2 separate regions of the Homo sapiens genome follow, and region 2 is linked to region 1. Evidence: fine-mapped expression QTL. A gene starts in region 1. The other region holds a variant in brackets. All regions are shown on one strand. Distances are from middle to middle. Region 1 holds the start of NELFA (negative elongation factor complex member A). Region 2 overlaps POLN (DNA polymerase nu).

Region 1 (4,391 bases):
TCCCTCGGGGAGACACAATAGGCACCAATGATAGTGGGCGGATGAATACACCATCTATGTTAAAACTAGGAGCTTCTATTCATCCATGATTCCAGGAAAAGGGCTGGGCGCACAGATCACACCTGTAATCCCAACACTATGGGAGGCCAAGGCAGGAGGATCACTTGAGGCTAGGAGTTCAAGACCAGCCTGGGCAATACAGTAAGACCCCCATCTCCATACACATGCACAAAAATTAGCCAGGCGTGGTGGCAGCGCATCAGTCCCAGCTACTACAGAGGTTTAGGAGGGAGGACTGCTTAAGCCCAGGAGTTCAAGGTTAAAGTGAGCTATGATTATACCACTAGACTCTAGCCTGGGTGACAGAGTGAGACGCTGTCTCAAAAAAAAAAAAAAAAAAAAAAAAAAGGATTCCAGGAAGCTAAGTCAAAGTCAAAGGACAACTGGGAGATATTTGTAACTGAAAAAGGACTGATATCTAGCATTTATAATAAATAATAAAAAAGACACTCTTACAAAACAATGGGAAAAAAGAGAATTTAAAAGCAGATTTGAATATACAATTCTCAAAGCAGAAAACCAAACAGCAGGCCGAGTGCCATGGCTCACACCTGTAATCCCAGCCCTTCAGGAGGCTGAGGCAAGCAGATTGCTTGAGGTCAGGAGTTCAAGACCAGCCTGGGCAGCATGGTGAAACCCTGTAGTCCCAGCTACTCAGGAGGCTGAGATGGGAAGATCTGAGGTGAGGAGGTCAAGGCTGCAGTGAGTCACGATGGTGCCACTGCACTCCAGCCTGGTTGACAGCGCCAGACCCTGTCTCAAACAAAACACAAACACAAAAACAAAACACTCTGAAAAATAATTTGGCATGATCCTATGATCCTCACAATTCCACTCCTAGATGTTATACCCTAGAGAAATCCAAGATTCCAAACACCTGAACATATGACCGTAATGTAGTAACGGGATGATTTACAAGAGCACAAAAGCTAAGCGTGTCACTGTGGCAGAATGGATAAAGTGCCTCGTGCTCACAGACAGGAATACCACGCAGCAGTGAAAATTAAACTGCAGTCAGCTGCAACGTGGATGAAACTGTCACGGCGTCGACCAAAAAGACACATGCACGCCACACACAAAATACACTATGATACCATCACACTAACTCCAAATCCGGCAACCAAGCTGTGCCATTTAGGGGTGCATAAATAATTGCTCACACCGGGGAGATGGCACAGAAATGATTACCTTTCCAAAATGAGGAAGGGGAAAGGAAGAAGGCCGTGATTACCAGTGGGAGGCTTCCAAGGAACAGGCATGGTTCTACTTCTCCACCTGTGTAAGGATCACAGGAGTGGCTCGCGATGCTATTATTATTCGTTAAACTGAACAAAAATGCACTTTTCCATACATGTCATATCTCAATCAAAAGCAATTACAACCTATAATAGCTAATAATACATCAGTAGCCAGGAACGTTTAAACAACCATGGGGCTTCAATAGTCTGCAAAACTACTCGGTTTATTTCGCACGGAAAGCGATACAATATAAAGTTTAGGAAAAAAGAAAACAAACCTCACACACCCACTTATTGGAATGACGCAAAACGGCGTGTAGAAAAGAGTAAAACGGACACAGAGCGCTCCGGACGGCCGGGGTCTTTGCGAGGTGAGAACAAGAAAATCCAGTCAGCGGACACTGGAGCTACCGAGCCCAGGCCGCCCCTTCCTCACGCGGGGGTTTCTCTCGGGATCCCCGCCCTCGCCCAGGTCACCAGGGCTGCGTCCCCGACGGGAAACCCCGATGGGAGACCCCGCTGGGGCCGGCGCACCCCCGCTCCAAGAGTCGGTCGCTTCGGCACGGTGGGGGATTAGGGTGGTGAGGACCGAAGGCGGGGGAGGCGGGGGCGGGTGGGGATGAGTACCCGGGGGCCCAGGGAGGGGAGTGAGGACCTGGGGGTCGTAGCGAGAACCCGGGGCCCGGCGGGGAGGAGATTGAGGATCCCAGGGGAGGTGAAAACTTGGGTAGGGGTGAGGACGAAAAGTAGGGAGGTGAGGACCCTAGTGGGGGATTCCCAGGGGGCGAGGAGGGGCGGGGGGTCCTGAAGACCCACGGTGGGGATGAGAACCGAGGTGGGAGATGAGGATCGAGGCGGGGGATGAGGACCCAGGGGGAGGTGAGGACTGGAGGGAGGTATTCGGAGGAGCGAGGAGGGGGCGTGAGGGCGGGCCGGGGGGGTTAACAGTCTGAAGGGGGATGGGAAGGTTGGGGGAGGGAGCGAGGAGGGTCCGGAGTTGGGTGTGCGGGTCGGAGGTGGGAAGGTTGGGAATCTGGGGGCCGCGGGGCGCCACGCCTGCCTTACCTCGTCCACCGTGCGGCGCGGGAGGTGCAGCGTCCCGAGTAGCAACTTGAGCTTCACTGCCGACGAGAGGCCATGGAAGCAGAGACGGATGTTGTCGATGACCGCGGCCGTGAGCAGGGACGCGATGCTGGGCGGCGCCCACAGCTCGTCCGTGGCCCCCAGCTTGTTGTGCAGCCACAGGCCCGTGTCGCTCTCCCGCATGGACGCCATCTTGGGGGAAAGCGCGCGCCGCTGCCCCGGCATCTTATGAAGACACCTACGCGTCCCTCGCTAGGACCCCAACATGGCGGCGCCCGTCGGGCTGCGGGCCGCAGAGGCGGCGCAGGTGGCGCGGTCCCACGAGCGGGGCTTCCCGGGAGAGCGCTTCTGGGTGGCGACCGCGTCTCCGGGTAGCGGCCGCGTCTTCGGGAAGCTTTGTGGCAAAGCCGAGAGCCGGAAGGACGGGGTGCCGCTGAGCAAGGACTATCGGCTTCCGTAAAACATCATGGCGGCGCCCTCTGCTGGCTCTCGGGAAGACCGCAAAAAATGACGTCACGAGCAGGCGCGCGTATTCGCGTCTTGGGAGCCCGGGCTGCGGCCTGGCATTCGCAGTGCAGGTGTCAAGCGCCGCAGACTTGCTGCTCGCGCGGTGGGGCGGAGGCTCCCTGTGGCACCTGCCCCGCTGTCCGCTCTTCGCTTTTTCCCCGCTTGGGTCTCGGCGCGGACCGTGTGGACGCCCCGCCCCCGCGGGCCCAGCACCTGCACGGAGAGGAGCCGCGGCCCTGCGGAGCGAGCCTGCGGGATCCCGGTCGCAGCGCTGAGCTTCCGTCCCCCGCTGAGCCCGCTCTGCCCGTGGCGCGCCGCCGACGGGGCTGCGCTGAGCATGCGGGTCGGAGGGCGCTCGGGAGCTGTCCAGGGGCACTCGTGACCCCACAGTGCAGGGAGGCCCCGGCCCCCAGTCGGGCTGGAGCCGCCAGGCAGGAGCCAGTAGTGAACTTTTCAGTTTTAAAAGCTTGTCATTAGATACAAACATGAGTAAAAGTTAAACTTCATTTTATTAAATTCGTTTTACCCTTTTGTCTTTTTGACGAGGCCTTCCTATGTTGGCCAGGCTGGTCTCAAACTCCTGGGCTCAAGCGATCCGCCCGCCCGCCTCTGCCTCCCAGAGTGCTGGGGTTACAGGTCGGGGCCGCCTTGCTTGGCTTCTGTATTATATCTTTTTTTTAAAAGATCTTTTCCTTATTGTTCCACTGCCATGCTCCTGCCGCCGTTCACAGCTATTGCCACTGGGCGGTGGGAACGCCGGGAGAACAGGGCTCAGCCCAGCTGCTAGCAGTGCCCTGGCCCTGGCGGCTTGAACTTGGCAGTCCTGCGGAAGTCACACGGGGGAAACCCGCAAATGCTACAAATCAGTGCTGGAGCGGTGGTTTTGTTGATTGCTTAAACTGAAGAAAGTGATAGAGAAAATGTTGATGATAAAGATTAAACTTAAAACTGTCATGTCGACAACCGTTACATTGCAAATAGCACATAAAATTTAAGAGAATATTTTTTAAATGATTCAAAAGTGTCGAATTCAGCAAAGACAAGTTATTGACTAATGGGTGAAGTTGTGACATCAGTGGGGCTAGTGCTGAAAGAAGTTTAATGATTAGGCCGGTCACGGTGGCTCACGCCTGTAATCCCAGCACTTTGGGAGGCCAAGGCGGGCGGATCACCTGAGGTCGGGAGTTCGAGACCAGCCTGGCCAGCATGGAGAAACCTCGTCTCTACTAAAAATACAAAACTAGCCGGGCTTGGTGGCGCATGGCTTGCCTGTAAGCCCAGCTACTCGGGAGGCTGAGGCAGGAGAATGGCTTGAACCCGGGAGGCGGAGTCTGCGGTGAGCCGAGATTTTGCCATTGCACTCCAGCCTGGGCCACAAGAGCAAAACTCCCTCTCAAAAAAAAAAAAAAAAGTTTAATAATTATAATCTGAGGGTAAGAAATAGTTTAACAGTGGACGACATATCAAATTTAGTATGAGAAGAGTGAAAGTTACTTCAAGTTG
Region 2 (4,391 bases), 81 kb after region 1:
TATGGTTAAGCTATTCTGTTTCTTCCTGTTTAGGAATTTGGGGTTATATATTGGATATCATGCATGATATACGTAGAGTTTTAGATCCTATTATATTCTTCTAAGGGGTGCTATTTTTTTTTTCCTTTTGAGACAGTGTCTTGCTGTGTTACCCAGGCTGGAGGGCAATGGTATGATCATAGCTCACTGCAGCTTTCAATTCCTGGGCTCAAGCAATCCTCCTGCCTCAGCCTTCTGAGTAGCTACAGATGTATGCCCACTGTGCCTGGTTAAGGAGTACTAATTTTTTGTTTACACTTTTTATATATTTATTTTGAAGTGTTTATTTAGGACAAATGGTTTTTAAAAATGTATAAAAATAATTCACATATAAATCCAACTTCTATATTTACATGGTCCCTTAAAAGATTTTCATTTTATTATCATTAAAAATGTATTTCAACAATCTCCACAGTACTCTCAAAGGTCAGGAATTTTAAGATTTTCTAATAGAAAAATTTTAGTATTTATCTACAGAAAAATAATGAAACTAGGAATTATATCGTATTTTAAAACATAATGTCTCAACTATGCTGTGCCACATAAGAATAATCTTCACACTAAACTATAATAATTCCAAGTGCTGGCATTTTCGTTTATGAACAAAGCACAAAAATATCTCATAGAAAAAAATATTTCATCATAAAAAACATAGAAAGTTGAATGCTTCAAACAAAAATATCTGAGGTCTGATTTCACAACATCCAGTTTCCATATCCACTTTGTAAACATATACTCAGTATAGGTTACCAACTTAAATAAAGCCTGTTATCACTGAAAGAAGACATAGTTTAAAAAAAATTCAGTGCAAAAATACGCATTAGCTAATCAACTGATCTACAACAATTTTCATGAAAATCACAATTTGAATCCCATAATATAAAGTGATCCTCTAAGACTTTAATTAAAAATAAAAAGCTGTACAACAGCCATCAAGTTTTCTTTTGTTACTATTCTCTAGTAAATGCTTTTTTTTTATTAGCTTTTACAATGTCATCAGGTGATGCTGATTTGAAGTCAAATGGTATTATCGCTACAAGAGGACTTATTTCTTTGTCCTTTACATCTTGAACTTGTCTACTATAAAGAAAAGTCTTACAGAGGTCAAGGGTGCGTCGCTTGCAGCTTTTTAGTGGGTAACGAAGACACAGTGTTGAGGCAAAAGCTGAAGGTCTAGCAGCAACGGCCTTGGTCCGAGACAGAGAAAAAGGTGGTTTCCTAGTCAGACAGCCTTTATTGTTTTTCTCATTATCCTTAGCAAAATTGGATTTCTTCCCTAGCTTTGAACTTAGAACTTTAGTTCGTGATGAAGGAGCAATGGATTGGTCTACTATAGGCTTTGGAAGAAAATCTGGGTTTTTTTTATAAGGACCCTAAGATCAATATTTGAATCTATTCCAGGAGACCTCACTTCAGATAAACTGACCTCAAAGGACTCTTTCTTAATCTGAGAGTTGTATACATCAATTGTTTCTGCAATCAATTCAGAAAGTGACAAATTCTCAAGGTCTCTTGTGGGAGAAGCTTTAGGAAATGCCAATGACAACATAGATCCTGTTAATTCTGATATTCCTGGTGAAGACTGACAGTGATTTGCTAATTGTGACAGGGGAAAGGATCCCAAACTTAGATCTGTGAAACTGACAGATGACTGGTTACAAAGGTCAGACAAAGTAAAGCACTGGCTTATATTGTTTTCTTTGTGTTCCCGAAACAGTTCAGTTAGGGATGGACTTTCACACTGGGAAAACTGCAAATTATCATTTTTAAAAATGTAATTCTTGGCACTTTGTTCAACTAAAGAAACACTTCCAACTTCAGTTTCTTTACTAGCATTTAAATTATCAACAGTCATATTTTCCAACAAGCTAGTTAAGCACAAAGGATTATCTGAACTTCCTAAACTGTCCTGTACTGGAATGTTTTAAAAATCAGATAGTGAATTACTTTGAATATATGAAGAATTATTCAGTGTTGTGCTCTTTATCATTATGGACTTTAAATCTGGTATTTCTTTGAATGCAGAATCATCTTTGGAAGCACATTCAGATGGATGAAGTCTCAACAAATCAGCATCTAGGTTCTTTGAAAGCAGACTTTCCAGACTGTCTGTAGATGACAATCTGACTGATGGCTGACTTTCACAGGAATCTCTTGACATATCAGGAATTAAGTTAGCTAGTGAAAGTTCTTTTGTTAACCTACATG[A/G]TTCTGGTTTCTTTTCACTTTTAAGTCTGTCAAGTTTCTTTTTCCTATGGAGTAAACAGTGACTTGGAACTGAAGAATTATGAGATAATCCATATTTTCCTACTGAGCTAGAAAAATCAAAGGGTTTGCTACTATAATCCAAATGATTTGCTAACTGAGGATAAGAACTTTGAACATTATCAGCTGAAACTTCAGAAGAAGAAAATAAGACTCCTTACCTTTTGCTATCTTTCCTGTAGATACTCTTCCCTCATTCTTGTCCTTCAAATTCTACATGCTATCTTGTTCCAGAACCTCTGACAAAGGCTTCTGCACATCAAACTTGTTCTTCAGAACTGATTCAATCAATATTTCATCTGGCACAGCATCTCCAAGTACTTTCTCTCATGTGATCAAGGCATGAATAAAAACGAGCTTGATTAAATCCACTGAGCTGATGGTTCGAAACATAATTGAAAGATTCTTTCAGATCTTCATGATCGTATTCTTCTATAGGCTCAACGGAAGGTTTGTCACGCTGTGAATAAATAAACTGAGCAGCTGTTGATAGCAAAATACAAGAATCATCCTCTACAGACTGGCCATGGTGATCATCATCTTCAAGATCTTCATCGCAGTCACAGCCTCGAACATTCCGATGCTGGGCCATGACGGTGGAGAGGGCGTTTGCTACAGCCCCTTAACTCCTTCCAAAACACTCCGCTTAGATACTGATAAGGTGCCAGCTCAGGAGTACTATTTTTAAAGGGGCACTTAGTTTGGCTAAAATCAAACTCTGTCTCCCTGTAGTGGGAAAACACTGAAATCTCAGGTCAGTCCTTTTTGCCTTGGCTTCTGGGTTGTTTGAAGTCTGTCCCATTCATGCATAGTTAGGGGTCAGCCAAGGATCTGAGCAGAGTTCAAACCTAGAATTTGGCCTCATTTCCTGGCTCTCTTCTTTCTAGAATTTCTCATTTCACTTTCCAGATCCTCTGGTTGTCCAGAACTCTGTCCTCCAGTTCTTCAAGCTAGTAGGATTGTATGTTCTAGCAGAGTTTCTGTCCCCACAGCATCAACTGAGGTTTGCCTTCAGGTGAGGGTCTATAGAATGAGAAATTCACCAGTGCCATTCCTTTCTTCCAGGTGTCAGCTGACCTCCAATTTCTGTTGCTCTGGTCACTTCCCAGTGCCTCTGGGTAGTTGTCTTTTTATACATTTTCCACAGTTTATAGTTGATCCCTGTGTGAGGGCTGCTCCAATGGGAGCGACTTGGCCATAACCAGAAGTCATGCCTTGCTTTCTAAATACTTATGGCCAAGGGAGAATCCCTTTCCTTTCTTCTATGGAGCTGTCGGGATCTCTGAAGGGCAGCAGGTGGCCCCGGTCCCCAGGCATAAAGAAAGCCCATCCACAAGAGAGCGGACGGTGTGGTGGCTCCACAAGCAGCAGGGACGAGAGACTGAGATGGAGCCTGAGGGTCTGGGAGGCCTTCCAGGCCCTGGATCTTTGCTCCTCACTCCTTGGACACCCTTAGCAGTGGGACTGTCACACTCAAAGGCCACTGTCCCTTCCCCAAGCAGGATGGCTTTTGGCTCTGTGGGGACTTCTCTGTCCCATGCTTCCGCTGGACTGCTCCTTCTTTTCATAGAACTTGTCCCCACACTGTGATTCCGTTGATCCTGTTTCACACACAGGCCCTGAGAGATCTGCATGCTGGGGACACTAAGTACTCCATACCTCTGAAATCCTACACGAACACACAATTTGACTCTTCCCACAGACGGCTAACCCTATCCGGTGGGTACACGTGAATCTGTGTGTGTGTGTGTGTGTGTGTGTGTGTGTGTGTGTGTGCGCGCGCTACAATTTGACGTTTAGCAGGGACAGTCTTCACTCCCTTCACTCCCTTTTCTCCGAGTGCTCTTCTGCCCCACACATATTGCTAACAGGCTTTCACTCCTGTTTATGTCTCTAGGGCTGAGCAAGTGCCTGCACATAGTGGGCCTGTGGGAACATGGGCTGGTCTAGCTGGAACAGACCTGACATTGAATCCTACGCTGCTTTCAAAACTCAGCTCGGGTGTTGCTGCTCTGGGCCAGCTCCTGGACTCTCCCAACTCTCCCTGGGCTGGGTCCCTCCCCTGGCTCCCTTGGCACCAGGGACTC

Evidence for each region. PIP is the estimated chance that this variant, and not a neighbour inherited with it, causes the effect.
Region 2: its variant is the best candidate, but not a certain one, in a credible set for the expression of NELFA in whole blood (INTERVAL, PIP 0.68).

The regions. Positions count from the first base shown.
Region 1 is chr4:2,006,387-2,010,777 of GRCh38, forward strand. It overlaps NELFA (negative elongation factor complex member A), which reads right to left and starts at 2,588. Exons shown (of 11, transcript NM_005663.5): 1 at 2,364-2,588. The coding sequence starts at 2,573. It overlaps LOC124900839, which reads right to left. Exons shown (of 4, transcript XM_047416543.1): 4 at 2,620-3,787. The coding sequence starts at 3,375. The coding sequence ends at 2,620. RefSeq lists enhancers at 2,271-2,771, 2,379-2,898 and a silencer at 2,959-3,338.
Region 2 is chr4:2,087,722-2,092,112 of GRCh38, forward strand. All of the region lies in intron 20 of POLN (DNA polymerase nu), which reads right to left. It also overlaps the pseudogene LOC100419959. Among named protein-coding and RNA genes, the nearest start is that of NAT8L, 31 kb to the left of the region's middle. The variant A/G (reference allele first, on the strand shown) is at 2,248.